Linked DNA regions of Homo sapiens. The protein of the gene in region 1 interacts with the protein of each later gene in a biochemical or structural test. Each region holds a gene or a part of one and is shown on either strand. Other genes may lie near its edges.

Region 1 (3,652 bases):
TTCTTCATTACTCAGCATATTTGGATCAGATGACAACACTGGAGGACCAGGTTTTTTGGGTACACTGGGAGACTGAGGAGCGGCCTTACTTTGATTTACCAGTTCTTGAAGTGTGTCTGTAATGCATTTGTAACTGTTTAATCTGAAAGAAAATGGAAAAGGAACAATTACATTATTTAACTAGAAAGCAAATGATGGTAAGTGTGGTGACTCACGCCTGTAATGCCAGCCATAGGGAAGTCAAGGTAGGAGGACGGCTTGAGGCTGGGAGTTCAAGACTAGCCAGGGCAACAGAGCGGGACCACGTCTCTACAAAAAATACAAAAAAATTGGCTGGGCACAGTGCCTCACACCTGTAATCCCAGCACTCTGGGAGACGAAGGCAGGGGGACTGCCAGAGGTCACGAATTTGAGACCAGCCTGGCCAACCTGGTGAAACCCCGTATCTGACAAAAATACAAAAATTAGCCGGGCTTGGTGGTGCATGCCTGTAGTGCCAGCTATTCAGGTGAGTGAGGCACAAGAATTGCTTGAACCTGGGAGGCAGAGGTTGAGGTGAGCTGAGATCATGCCACTGCACTCCATCCTGGGTGACAGCAAGACCCTGTCTCAAAAAACAAACGAACAAAAAACAAAACAAAACGAAACAAAAAATTAACCAGGCGTGGCGGTGTGCACCTGTAATCCCAGCTACTTGGGAGGCAGAGGCAGGAGGATCGCTTGAGCCTAGGAATTCAAGGCTGCAAGTGAGCTATTATCATGCCACTGCACTCCAGCTCAGGCAACAGAATGAGGCCCTGTCTCAAAAACAAAAAACAAAACCCCCCAAAAACAAAACAAAACAAATAACAAAAAAGAAAGCCATTGATTTACCTTACCTAAGTATATACAAGGATTTCAAGACTATTTGGCAGAATAGATGTACATATTTGGCATTTAAAATAATACAAACCATATACTTTTTCAATAAGTTTGAGAAGTGTTTGGTTAAACATTAAAAGGGTAAAGTCATTAAATATAGTAATAAAAAAATATGTTTTCGCCAGATGTGGTGGCTGACACCTCTAATCTCAGCACTTTGGGAGGCTGAGAAGAAAGGATTGCTTGAGCCCAGGAGTTAAAGACCAGCCTGGGCAATATAGTGAGGCCCTGTCTCTACAGAAATTAAAGAGAAAAAAAAAATTAGCCGAGTGTGGTGACATGTGCCTGTAGTCCCAGCTACTCAGGAGGCTGAGGTAGGAGGATCACTGGATCACTTGAGCCCAAAAGGTCAAGAGTACAGTGAGCTATGATGGTGCCACTGACTCCAGCCCAGGAGACAGAGTGAAGCTTTGTCTCAAAAACAAAAACAAAAACAAAACAAAACACCCTCCATATATATATGTTATAGAAAGGTTATATATTTCTTCTTTGTTCCGAGACGGAGCCCTGCTCTGACGCCCAGGCTGGAGTTCTGTGGTGCAATCTCAGCTCACTGCAGCCTCTGCCTCCCGGGTTAAAGCAATTCTCCTGCCTCAGCCTCCCAAGTTGCTGGGATTACGGGTGTGCACCACCACGCCTGGCTAATTTTTGTATTTTAGTAGAGACAGGGTTTCACTATGATGGCCAGGCTGGTCTCGAACTCCTGACCTCATGATCTGCCCACCTCAGCCTCCCAAAGTGCTGGGATTACAGGCGTGAGCCACTGTGCCTGGCCTATATTTCTTTTAAGGACACACATTTCCTTTTTAACAGTCTCAACAAATTTGGGAATACTTAAAAATTATCCTTTAAAATGAAATCCTACTGGACATGGTGGCTCATGCCTGTAATCCCAGCACTTTGGGTGGTCGACCTTTACACAAAGAGGCCAGACACGGTGGCTGATGGCTATAATCCTAGCACTTTGCAAGACTGAGGTGGGTGGATCACTTGAGGTTAGGAATTCAAGACCAGCCTGGCCAAAATGGTGAAACCCTGTCTCTACTAAAAATACAAAAATTAGCCAGGCGTGGTGGTGTGCACCTGTAATCCCAGCTACATGGGAGGCTGAGGCACGAGAATAGCTTGAACCTGGGAGGCAGAGATTGCAGTGAGCCAAGATCACACGACTGCACTCCAGCCCAGGTGACAGAGCAAGACTCTGTCTCAAAAAAAAAAAAAAAACATAAAACAAAAAACAAAAAACATTATGCAAAGAAAAGTCTGTATCCATAAAGATGACAATCTGCTAACGTAATGGAATGCACCTTTCTTGGAAGGCCTGAAGTCCAACTATGTCTTCTTCTGGTTCTCCATGTTTATAGAAATGAAGCCCAAGACCTTGAGGATCTTTTTTCTCTGCAGCCGTAAGAGAAAGTTCCACCACACCCTCATAAAATCTCACTGATGGGAAAGAAAAGAATGAAGACCTATGACTTACTACTAAGTTGGATACATTTTTCCTTAGCTGGCACATGAAAATAATGATCAAGGTTATGTCTCTACTGTACAATAGTCACCCTGCTAACATAAAATATTTCTGATAGGTCTTCAGAAGGAAAAGGTCTTAATATGCCTAAAAGGCAACTGTTAAATATATTTCTTCATTGGGGGCCAGGTGTGGTGGCTCACGCCTGTAATCCCAGCACTTTGGGAGGCTGAGAGGGGGCAGATCACAAGGTCAGGGGTTCGAGACCAGCCTGACCAACATGGTGAAACCCCACCTCTACTAAAAATACAAAAATTAGCTGGGCCTGGTGGCATGCGCCTGTAATCCCAGCTACTCAAAAGGCTGAGGCAGGAGAATCACTTGAACTAGCGAGGCAGAGGTTGTAGTGAGCTGAGATTGCACCATTGCACTCCAGCCTGGGTGACAGAACAAGACTCTGTCTCACAAAAAAAAAAAGAAAAAGGAAAAAAAAAAATATATATATATATATATTTCTTCATTGGAAAAAAAAGATCCTATTTCAAATAACAAAAAGGAAAGTTTTAGTTCCCTACTGGGGGGAAAAAAATACCTTGGGATTCAAAATAATACCTGTGCAAATAGTTATGGCCTTTACATTATGTTAGATTTGATTTAAAGTAATTTTTTAAAAAGTAAGCAGATTATACCTTAAAACTCAATAAAAAATTTTAAATATCTGAAAAATAAATGTAATCCAGAAAGCAATGTAAAACATACAGTAATTGAACTGGACAAGAACTGAAACTCTAATGCTAAAAAGTTATACATTTCGGCTGGGCGCAGTGGCTCATGTCTGTAATCCTAGCACTTTGAGAGGCTGAGATGGGTGGATCACCTGAGGTCAGGAGATCGAGACCACCCTGGCTAACATGGTAAAACCCCACCTCTACTAAAAATACAAAAATTAGCTGGGCAATGGCCGGGCGCGGTGGCTCACACCTGTAATCCCAGCGCTTTGGGAGGCTGAGGTGGGTGGATCATGAGGTCAGGAGATTGAGACCATCCTGGCTAACATGGTGAAACCCATCTCTACTAAAAATACAAAAAAATTAGCCGGGCATGGTGGCAGGCGCCTGTAGTCCCAGCTACTTGGGAGGCTGAGGCAGAATGGCGTGAACCTGGGAGGCAGAGCTTGCAGTGAGCTGAGATCGCACCACTGCACTTCAGCCTGGGTGACAGAGCAAGACTCTGTCTCAAAATAAAAAAAATAAAAAAATAAAA
Region 2 (3,500 bases), on another chromosome or scaffold:
CCTATCCATTCTTCCATATCCAGCTCAAGTACTGTTGGTCTTCTCAACAGCTTTGTTGTAATTCCTCTTCCTGGCTTCTTTCAAGATTACCTTTCTCATCTATCATGACCATGTTTTTCTGAATCAATACTTTGATAAAGGGGTTATCTAATTTATTAATATTTCAAACAGTAGAAAAATCATTTTGTTTAGCAAATCACGTTTATTGAAAAATGGGCTGTTTTAGAATGTCCTATGCCACACGTTTTGAGATTTGTTTATGTTCCTTCAGTTCTTTGTATTTACTTAATCGTCTCATTGTCTTTTCAAATGTGTAAGTTATTTTACCAGTGCATACTTGTAAGTGGCTTAAATGATAAACAGTACTTTTGTAGATTGATTTTTATAGACAGAATTTGATCAAAGTAGATATCATCTGAGATGACACTAGCCATAATTAGGCTTGGGGAACCTGTTTAACGGTTACATTTGTTATGTAAGTACCACAGAAACATGATATGAGCAAGCATTTATTTATACTATGTACTTCTGGAAATTGTAAGACGAAGTTGAGTGAGGTAGAGACAGATTCAGGGTAATCAGCTTGAGTGGTTGTTTGAGATGTCTATTAATTTATGTATTTTTAACATCACAGTTAGAAGGATGCCCTCTGTGAAGTTGTTGTAAGACTTTGTCTCGTAACATTGTTTTTCTCTTCCTGCCTTAGTTGTGAAGCACTGGAGCCTGACATGGACACTATGTGAAGCCCTATGGGGCCACCTGAAGGAGCTTGACAGCCAGCTAAATGAACCCCGTGAATACATTCAAATTCTGGAGCGAAGAAGAGCTTTCTCCCGCTGGCTATCCTGTACTGCCACACCTCAGATTGAAGAGGAAGTCTCCTTAACCCAAAAAAACAGCCCTGTGGAGGCTGTATTCAGCTACCTCACAGGCAAAAGGATCAGTGAGGCCTGCTCTCTGGCCCAGCAGTCAGGTGGGGAAGGCATATGGTCCTTCTCTGCGCCTCTGTCGCCTTCCTACTCACTGCCTCCTACCGCTCCCCGCTAATTGTGCATTTCCCTTTGGCTTCTAGCCTATGAGTATTAATTGCGGACTTCCCAGAAAGATTGCTGGTTCCCGTGGAATATGTAATATAACATAAAATTTAACTTTTAATCAAGTAAACAATGTTTAAGGTCCTAAACAGAGAATTAGAAGACATAGTGCGGCTGGGCTCAGTGGCTCATGCCTGTAATTCCAGCACTGTGGGAGGCCAAGGTGGGTAGATCACACCCACCTATTCCTATAGAATAGGAACCATGACTTTTTTTTTTTTTTTTTTTTTTTTTTGAGACAGTTTCACTCTTGTTGCCCAGGCTGGAGTACAATGGTGCGATCTCGGCTCACTGCAACCTCCTCCTCCTGGGTTCAAGCGATTCTCTTGCCTCAGCCTCCCAAGTAGCTGAGATTACAGGTGCCTGCTACCACACCTGGCTAATTTTTGTATTTTAGTAGAGACAGGGTTTCACCATGTTGGTCAGGCTGGTCTCGAACTCCTGACCTCAGGTGATCCACCCACCTTGGCCTCCCAAAGTGCTGGAATTACAGGTGTGAGCCACTGCACCCAGCCGAACTATGTCTTCTAATTCTTTTTTTAGGACCTTAAACATTGTTTACTTGATTAAAATTTAAATTTTATATTACATTTGTAATAAAACTAGAAAGCATAGATAAGCTATCAATCAAAATCACCCAAATCCTGTGACTACTACTCACTGCAAACATTTTAATGTGCAATTTGTACTTAATTCTTTACTTTGTAATACATACAAATATGTCCAGACACTGTGACATATGCTTGTGAACTTTTCAAAGGTGATATCCTGCTGTGTATTATATTCTGTTCTTTTCATGTGGCACATTACAAATGCCCTGTAATACAGATAATTATCAAATACTTCTTAGCATTCTTTTATGTATAAATGTACCATAGTAGTAAATTTCTTCCTTCACATTGAGACTTTTTTTAAAACTATAAACAGTACTCTGAATTGCTATAAAATATGTTCTATATCAATTCATTCAAATAAATATATAGAAGTTGAATTTCTGGGTTGAGGTACTCACTGGCTTTTTAAAAGGAATTTATATGCATATATTTACTTCTTTAAGTTCCCTTTCACTAATGAGGCAATTCAGCAAGTACTTAATGACTGCCTAGATATAAATCTTTTTTTTTTTTTTTTTTTTTTTTTAAGACAGAGTCTGTCTGTGTGTTTACCAGACTGCTGGAGTGCAGTGGAACGATCTCAGCTCACTGCAACCTTTACTTCCTGGGTTCAAGCGATTCTCCTGCCTCAGCCTCCTGAGTAGCTGGGATTACAGGTGCCTGCCACCATGCCCAGCTAGTTGTCTTTTTTTTTATTTTTAGTAGAGACAGGGTTTCGCCATGTTGGCCAGGGTGGTCTCAAACTCGTGACTTCCAGTGATCCACCCACTTTGGCCTCCCAAGTGCTGGGATTACAGGCATGAGCCACCGTGCCTGGCCATAAAGTCTTGATAAGAATACAGGATGGCATAGTTCAGCTTAATCTAATATGATCAGATCCTTATTCAAACCTTGATTGTTGGAACCTAATTTATCCAAAGCCAACTAATTGGAGCCATCGACTGGATTTATTTTGAAGAGTTTTGCCACTTTTGGGATTATAAGGAACAAATCACAGGAAAAGCCAGAATCAGTAAGCTATATAAAGGGCTTGTTGCATTCCACTGTCACTACACATTTAGCCTGGTAGCTTCCTGTTTTCTTTTCTTTTTATTTTTTAAATAGAGATGGGGTCTGTATGTTGACCAGGCTGGTCTCAAACTCCTGGCGTCAAGCAGCCCTCCTGCCTCAGCCTCCCAAAGTGCTGGGATTAGAGGCGTGAGCCACCACATCCAGCCTCCGTCTGGTACTATTTATGGTCTTTGTGCATTTGTACAGTGAGAATTTATCTTTGGGATTGATCTTGTATGAACTTATTATGAATCATTAAAAAAAGGTTATGCTCACCAGGACACCAACATGTAGTAGGAGAGGATCTTAAGGCATGCCAGAGTCAGATTCTTAGGGCTGTTGATTCATAAACTCCACTTTCTTCCTGTTTATTTTGACTGTAAGGCTAAACCTCTGGTAAAGGTACTGCCTTTTAGGTTACTAAAAGCTTTTGCTTTACTACTCCCCCCCTTTTTTTTTGTTTTTTGTTTTGTTTTTGTTTTTGTTTTCGAGACAGTCTCGCTCTGTACCCCAGGATGGAGTGCAGTGGCATAATCTTGGCTCACTACAACGTTTGCCTCCTGGGTTCAAGCGATTCTCCTGCCTCAGCCTCCTGAGTAGCTGGGATTACAGGTAACGTGCCACCACACTCGGCTAACTTTTGTATATTTAGTAGAGATGCCGTTTCGTCATGTTGGCCAGGCTGGTCTCGAACTCCTGACCTCAGGTGATCCGCCTGCCTCAGCCTTCCAAAGTGCTGGGA
Region 3 (3,500 bases), on another chromosome or scaffold:
GGCCTAGAGGAACGGCGAACACTGTTGGGTGAATCACAAATCAGTTAGTGGCACCCTTTCTGCAGGACAATTTGGCAATCTATGTCAAAGGCCTTCAAAATCTGTCTAACCTTTGATGCTGGAGCTCCACTCTTGGGATGTAACGTTAAGAAATAAGGAGATGGCCTGATGCCCATGAAGCCTCCGCTGCAGGGCCGAGCACCCAGCAGGCATGGCAGAGCTATGCGGCTTCCCCGACACCTTGGTGTTAACAGAACGGAGGGGCATTGCACACCGGGATGCTCTGGGGGTTGGGAACGATCTAGCTGATTACTTGGACACTTGTTTATGATACATTAAGTTAGAAAAACAGGTTATAGATCATGTACCTTTTAAAGAATGGGCTTGGATAAAGCAAACACAAGCCAGGAGTAAAGATTAGAAGGCCACACAGGAAGAGTCAGCAGCAACAGTCTCCAAGGACTTGAACTACTGTGATATTTAACATCTTTTTGCTTGTAGAATGAACGTGTTTTGCTAAAAAGGACAATAGTTTATCACCACTATATCCCCTACACAGTAGCTACTCAAGGAATGTCTGCTGAATGAATGGGCAAACAAAGAGAAGGAATAAAATGTTGTTGTAATCATGCTAGTTAGTGGGGTTTGGCAGATAGAAATCCCCTTGCCAGAAGCTAACGTTAATAATGAATAGATAACAGATTTCATTATACTCTCTACCTCCATGACAGCAACGTTTTTAGCTCCCCCAGATGAATGAGAAAATGCCATGTTTGTCTTTCTGTGCCTGGCTTAGTTCACTTAACATGAGGGCCTCTAGTTCCATCTATGTTGCTGCAAATGTCAGGGTTCTATCCTTTTTGATGGCTGCATGGTATTCCACTGTGTACAGCACCACATTTTCTCTGTCTATTCATCCACTGAAGGACACTGAGGTTGATTCGACCTCTTGGCTATTGTGAAAGATCCATGGCTAAGACCTCAAAAGCACAGGCAACAAAAACGAAAACAGGCAACTGGGACTCTGCTCAACTAAAAAGCTTCTGCACAGCAAAGGAAGAGAATCACCAGAGTGAAGAGACGACCTGTGGGAAGGGGAAACATGTGCAAGCCATTCATCCGACAAGGGAGCAGTATCCAGAACATGCGGGAACTCCAGCAACTCACCAGCAAAACCTGAAGCAGCCAGTATAAAAGTGGGCCAAGGATCTGAAGAGACATTTCCCCAAAGACATATGACTGGCCATTGGGGATAGGAAGAAACGCTTCTCCTGACAAACACTTACACTCAGGCTGTTCCTACAGAACAGAAAGCCCGGCCTTCTCACTTAGGAGCAAACTCACGGCGCACCTCGCCCCAGAGGAAACCCTGCAACTCCCTTTAGATTTGCTCACATATTACATTGTGTAAGGAATGATTAAAGGGCTACTGAGGAAAACATTTTTCCTAGGCAATTTTTTTTTTGTCAAAAGTTAAAGAATTATCAGTAAGTTATGCTGTAGAGGAAATGCTTGTGTTATCATTTGGGAACAAAATAAGGAGACGTTCTAATGTTTGCAAAGTTTTCATTTCCTTTGTAAGCAAGGTTTTTTTTAAGCCCATTTCTGGAACTAAAGGAGGCTTCTGAGAATTTGTTCCTTGGAGATGCCGACTGGTCCACCTGAGAAATCGCAGGGCGTTCTGGCATCTGCTGCCTCGGGGCCGAGCCCTGCGGGAGGCATTCTGAGGCTGGCGCCCCCGGACCGCATCTCAGCATGTGCTCAGAGGGAAAGTCCGCGGGCCTGAGGTCAGAGCATCCAGGCACGCGTGTAAATAACAGCAGCAGCGGCCACAGAGGAGCTGTCCCCTTACGCACCTGGGCGACTTCCTCTCACTCTCTGAGCCCTGCCTCCTCCCTGTAGAGGAGGTGCCGGCACACTGGGCTTCCCTGGCCTGTAGAGGAGGAGGTGCCGGCACTCTGGGCCTCCCTGGCACTGTAGAGGAGGAGGTGCCCGGCACACTGGGCTTCCCTGGGTCCAGGGGGCCTTCAAGGTACAGTAGTGTTTCTAGGGACCCCAGGGTGAACAGAAAAGGCAGTGCTGAGAGCCAGGCTGGGAGGCCCCTGCTCCCCCCACATCCTCATCCACTCGAGACACCCCCTCTGACGGGCAAGCTCACTACACTCTGCACCACGTGAGAACGGAGAGCCAGCCCCTGGCCATGAAGCACAGGTGTTCTCACAGACCCGTCCAACTCTAGAGATACTGAAACCCAGAAAGGGCGCCTGGGTGTGATCCAACATGCAAAGGCTGCCCGTGCCCACTCTAATGAACATCTGATGTGGAACATGAACAATGGCACCTCTTGGTATTTCCTGTAACTCCTTCTACATGTTCTATTAATTTCCAGTAGCTTCATTTACGTATCGTGATTTCTAAAAATTAACACAGAACTGGAATGATGCAGACCCACCCAAACAAGGCACTGTTCCAATATTAACTACCATGTACATAAGTGCCTCATTTTAAATAAAAACATGTATCTAGGACCACAATCAACAAGATGCAACCAGTGTTAACCTCAGGGCAGGAAGTAATTTCTAGGTTGCATTATAAGGCTTATTACTGGTAGACCTCAGCTATGACCACAGCCATACAGAGGACTGTTAAAACTTCTAATCATCTAAATAAGTACTGAAGTTGGCAGGCTGAAGAAGACAGGTAATAAAAGAAATCGATGTATGAAGTAGAAAGAGTAAGAGAAATTGGGGATTAAGCAGCCTGGAGACAAAGGGCAAAATTCGTTCTGAGCAGTAATTCTAGTCTCTAAAAATGTTTATACATAAACGGTCTTGAAATTTGAAATGAAAATGCTAAACACTCATGCCTCTGTATCCCAGCTAAGATTTGCCAATCCTTTGGAAGGGCAGGATTCATTTCTAAATATTTAAGAAGGAAAGTCAATAACTATATTTAATAAATTATAGCCTTCTGTAAGTTGGAGAGAATTCAGAAAGAACCTCCCACTCAGTAGAACTCTGCCCCATGAAGCAGACACAGCATTTCCAGCTCAACTCATCAGAAAACTCACTGCTAAAGCGTACCCCTCCCACCCCTGCCCTGCAGTCAGGCCCACCCAGGCCCAGGGCACCACTCAGCCTGCGGGACTGCCTCTCTCTGCCTCTCTCTTCTTCCCCGTGCTCTGGGGGTGGCCTCTCCTTGTCAGTGGGGCATTGTGTGGAGTGTGGGGCAGGTCCTTGCTGCCTGCCTGGTTCTGTCCCTGGGCCTGGCACAAGGCGCTCGGGACACGTGTGGGATAAAGGCAGGGGGCGCAAAGGAGCTCAAGGAACACGGAGCGAGGTCCTCGGACCTGCTGCCCTGGAAAGCCTCCGAGTATGGTCAGTGTGCGACTCGGCCAGCCTGGGCGCCACTCCTCCCTGCCTTGCCACTCAGCTCCTGCGTCTCTGACATCTTTCCCACCTAGGGACTCCAAGCGTCCCCTGACTCCTCTCTAGCTTGCC
Region 4 (4,152 bases), on another chromosome or scaffold:
GTATTTATCCTATAAACAAAAACCAACTCGGTCTTTACTGGTTACTGCTATACATTTTTTTTAAAACTACAGACTGAACCAAACTTAGAATCTCTCAACTATATCAGTAAAAATCTAAAAAGATTCTCCATATAGGGATAATAATCACAAAATTCTTGAAGACTCACTAGTCTACTTGTATATTTAGTATACAGGTTTTATAGATTTTTGTTAACTACCTGTCAATAGCTAGCAAAAAATCCTGAAACTTAAGAGGCTACAGAAATGAACCTGCACCAGTCGTGTTCAAATCCCTTGGCAACACCTTAGAGGTTACTAGGGCTGCACAAAGTTTATCTCTGTTTGCAACAAGGAGGCAGTGGGAAGAGTAAAGCTGCTGGGCCTGCATTAACTACAGCAACTCTGTTTCATACACCTTTTCTGTTTCTACAGTGGGGCTCTATATAAGCTTTTGTTTATGAAAAAGAAGGCCTACTGAAAAAAAGACACAAACCAAAAAGGAACAGAAACTCATTTTATTGAGATGAGGAAACCAAGGCCCAAAAAGGTATGGCAACTTGCCCAAGGAAACTCTGGTGCCTCAACTAGAACCTGGATCTTCAACTTCCAACTGAGAGCTCTTTCCAACAGTGTTATTACTACCATGGGAGAAATGAAGATATAGTATCAAACACCATAATGCAAGTTAGGAGCAAAAACAGGACTTGATTTATCACGCTATATGTACCAGGGTTCACGGAGTTTTCTAGCAGCAGAGGAGATAATCACAAACTCAGCACCCTCCAGTAAAGTCATTCTTACAAGAAGCCAGTGAAGAATTCACAGGTGCCTGCCCACCCTTCACAAGCTGCCAAGAGATGGACCTAACTCCTTAACACCAATAATTCCAATACAATTGTGAAATCCTCAAGTTATGGAGAAAAAGGAGCATTTCTTTAAGAGCTTCAGAATCAAGACAAAAAAAATCCCTCTCCCATCAAACTAGTGCAAACCTTACAAAGGAGGGCTAAGAAGCTAGCACTGGGGCCCCATGGTGGGTCTGGAACTCCATACACATTTCCAGCCCTATCAGAGTTGGTTAGAGATGAAATTAAAAGCCTTACTCTACTCCTGGCAATGAGTATGAGGAGGAAGCCCCTCACTGATACAGCAGTTTAAGACCCAGAAGTCAACAGGGTTTTCTGGTCCTGATTTGATGTGAGCCAACAATGATGACAGTGATGAAGACAGCTGCTATCTACCCCATTCACAGATGAGTACCTTCTACTTGCCAGGCACTATGCTAAGAACCTCACATATAGCAATTCATGTCACTCTCACAACTCTTGGGCAAAGTACAGCTATTTCCACTTCACAGAGAATGCAACACTCAGAGCATTTAAGTTACTTGCCTGAAGACATAGATCAAGTTAGTGGCAGAGCCAAACTCAAATCCAAAGCCTATGCATGTACTTCGCACAACACCAACAATGCCAAGTTGTTTCGCCTCAGTTTTACCATTTGACAAATGACATCATCCATCCCTGCCTCTTTTACAGAGTTGTACTGAGGTCAAGTGAAATCACTAATACAAACATGACTTGAAGTTTAGGAGTTTACTACTTAAACTCAAAAACTGCATGAGTATCCCTGACCGTTTGCAGAGAAGATGAAGGCAGAGCCCCAGTCATCTCCCTGTGCTTGGGTCAAGCTAATGAAAGAAGGGAGCCAGGTTGCAGAGCTGGCTCCAAGCCTCCCTCAGACCTTGGGTATTCACTAAGGTGCAACTTTCTCACCAAACAAACCCTGCTCTTCCCAACTCACAGGCCTATTATACAAAAAAAAAAAAAAAGAAGAAGAAGAAGAAGAAAGAAAAAAAGGCCAGCTGAGCAGACTCTAGAGACAGACTGCTTAAATTCAAATCCCAGTTCCCTCACTTACTAGCTCTGAATTCTTGGACAAGCTAGCTCTGAATTCTTGGACAAGCTTTGTATCATAACATGCCTCAGTTTCCACATATGAAAAAATGGGGGATTGCTGAGAAGACTGAGTTAATTCACACAAAGGCTTAAAAGAGTGCCATGTAGAGAATAAACACTCAAATTTTAAGAAGGACCAAATGACACAATGGGCAAAGGCACCCTACAATCCTCTAAAGCTACACCTTTAGATCCTCTAAAGGAAGAAGGTGTCATATTCTCTCATGCTACAACTGATCCTAAAGTCACCTCCCCCAAAAAGCTCCTACCCAACAAACCTACCCTTACAGATGAAGCCTTTTATGCTGCTTTGCTTGCCCTGTGCACTATATGATGCTTCAACTACGATTTTCAGCTTTGTAATTAATCATATACATTTTATTTCCACATAAGATATGTAATGGTAAGCACACAGTTTCCAAAATCAGACAGATAGGATTTCCAACTCTGGCTGCATATACCAAGCAATTATGATGTCTCAGAGTCCTGCTCCATAAAAAGAAGATACCTGTACTATCAACCTCAGAGCTGTTGTGAGTAGCAAGTGTGATAACACCATGTGCTTAACACAGTGCAAAGGCACACAGTAAGAGCTCAATTAACAAAGCTGTTATTTCGCCAGAATATGTCCCCATTTCTTTTATGATTCTCAGCAGTTAGGGCAGAGCCCTCCTGGATGTGATTAATATTCCTTCCTTAATGCACCAATTTATTTATGGGGGCCTTGAGGCTACCTTTCTTCCTACTGCACCCGTCCCTATGCCGTGGTGAAGCAGGGCCCCCAGCCACTCTGCAAACATGCCTGGGCCCTCCTTTGTTCACATTCCCTCCACTCAGAAATCCATACCCAGCTGGGCACAGTGGCTAATGCCTGTAATCCCAGCACGTTGGGAGGCCGAGGTGGGAGGATCAGCTCAGGAGTTCGAGACCAGCCTGGGTAAAATGGCAAAACCCCCTCTCTACACAAAATGCAAAAATGAGCCAGGCGTGGTGTCACACACCTGTAGTACCTTCTACTCGGGAGGCTGAGGCGGGAGGATCGCTTGAGCTGGGGAGGTCAAGGATGCAGTGACCCAAGACCACGACACTGCACTCCAGCCTGGGTGACAGAGTGAGACCCTGTCTCCAAAAAATAAATAAGTAAAGCTGTAATGACCTATAGCCCAGAAATACTCTAAAATTCATGTCTGACACAAATAAAACCTTAAGAAATCATCTCATGTCATGGTTTTCAAACCAATGGCACATTAATCTGATGGGCTTTAAAGAAGTGATGCCTCTAAAAAATAATTTATAAAAATTTAAATGGTGCTCAGATCCTATTTCAAAACAATATGGCCCTAAGCACTGCTTTCCTTTTTTAAAAATAAGCTTCTTAGGTAACATTACACAGAACCCTTTTAACTTTTTCAAAGTTTCAAAAAGGTTCTATCACCAAGGTGTGCACTGGTCCCTAAACATAGCTCAACAAAGTTCTATCTGGGAATCTTTTAGAAATTAGATTGATTCTCAGGTCCCATTGCATACTTACAGATTCAGAATCTCAGGAGTATTTTTTTTTTCAGCCTTCCCATCTAATTGTTCACCAACCAGGAACCCGAACTGCATTTGAGACCTCAATGATAACTAAGTATGCAATTTTACAGATAATGAGGCCAGAAAAGTGGAAGCTACCTGCCAAAGGGCACGTTGTTAGGAGTAATAATGCAAACTTCATCAAAATAAAAAGATGCTTGTTCAAAATGTAGGCTCCTAGTCTCTACCCCTAAAGATTGAGAGTAAATCCTACAGGGTCCAGGAATCCTGATGACTGAGACAAGTGATCCACAGTTCACACCGAGAAAAAGCACTGCTCTGCGGGACGCATCAGAGCAAACAGAACAGTTATGATCCTGTGCTCTATTGTAATAGGGTTGAGAAAATGCTATACTTACCTTAGCCTTGAAAATCTGTCACTTCTACTTCAGAGATGCATGGTGGACCCAAAATCCATCGAGCATTTATTTGCTTTTGGGGAAATCACCTATGAGACTATGACACTGCATTAAAATCAGGGCTCTCCTCCCATCCTGACCCCACTAATCAGCAATGTGCTTTTAAACCTTCCACTGTACTCCTTTATTAGACATACTTCACATTTTTCTATAACGTAGGGCTTTAAAGACTCACTGGATATGCCTCTAAGAGGCAAGTG

Evidence for each region.
Region 2: the proteins of NUP155 (region 1) and NUP98 form a complex in vitro, tested with the Homo sapiens proteins (2 studies listed by BioGRID).
Region 3: the proteins of NUP155 (region 1) and HDAC4 form a complex in vitro, tested with the Homo sapiens proteins (one study listed by BioGRID).
Region 4: the proteins of NUP155 (region 1) and CDC42 form a complex in vitro, tested with the Homo sapiens proteins (one large-scale study listed by BioGRID).

What each region holds. Positions count from the first base shown.
Region 1 is NC_000005.10:37,305,069-37,308,720, forward strand, and holds part of NUP155 (nuclear pore complex protein Nup155), read right to left. Parts: intron 2,365-3,652; coding exon 2,229-2,364; intron 143-2,228; coding exon 1-142.
Region 2 is NC_000011.10:3,696,555-3,700,054, reverse strand, and holds part of NUP98 (nuclear pore complex protein Nup98-Nup96 isoform 1 precursor), read left to right. Parts: intron 1-706; coding exon 707-973; intron 974-3,500. UniProt on the Homo sapiens protein: Plays a role in the nuclear pore complex (NPC) assembly and/or maintenance. NUP98 and NUP96 are involved in the bidirectional transport across the NPC. May anchor NUP153 and TPR to the NPC.
Region 3 is NC_000002.12:239,135,521-239,139,020, forward strand, and holds part of HDAC4 (histone deacetylase 4), read right to left. Parts: intron 1-3,500. UniProt on the Homo sapiens protein: Responsible for the deacetylation of lysine residues on the N-terminal part of the core histones (H2A, H2B, H3 and H4).
Region 4 is NC_000001.11:22,097,709-22,101,860, reverse strand, and holds the end of CDC42 (cell division control protein 42 homolog isoform 1 precursor), read right to left. Parts: 3' UTR 501-4,152; downstream 1-500. UniProt on the Homo sapiens protein: Plasma membrane-associated small GTPase which cycles between an active GTP-bound and an inactive GDP-bound state. In active state binds to a variety of effector proteins to regulate cellular responses. Involved in epithelial cell polarization processes.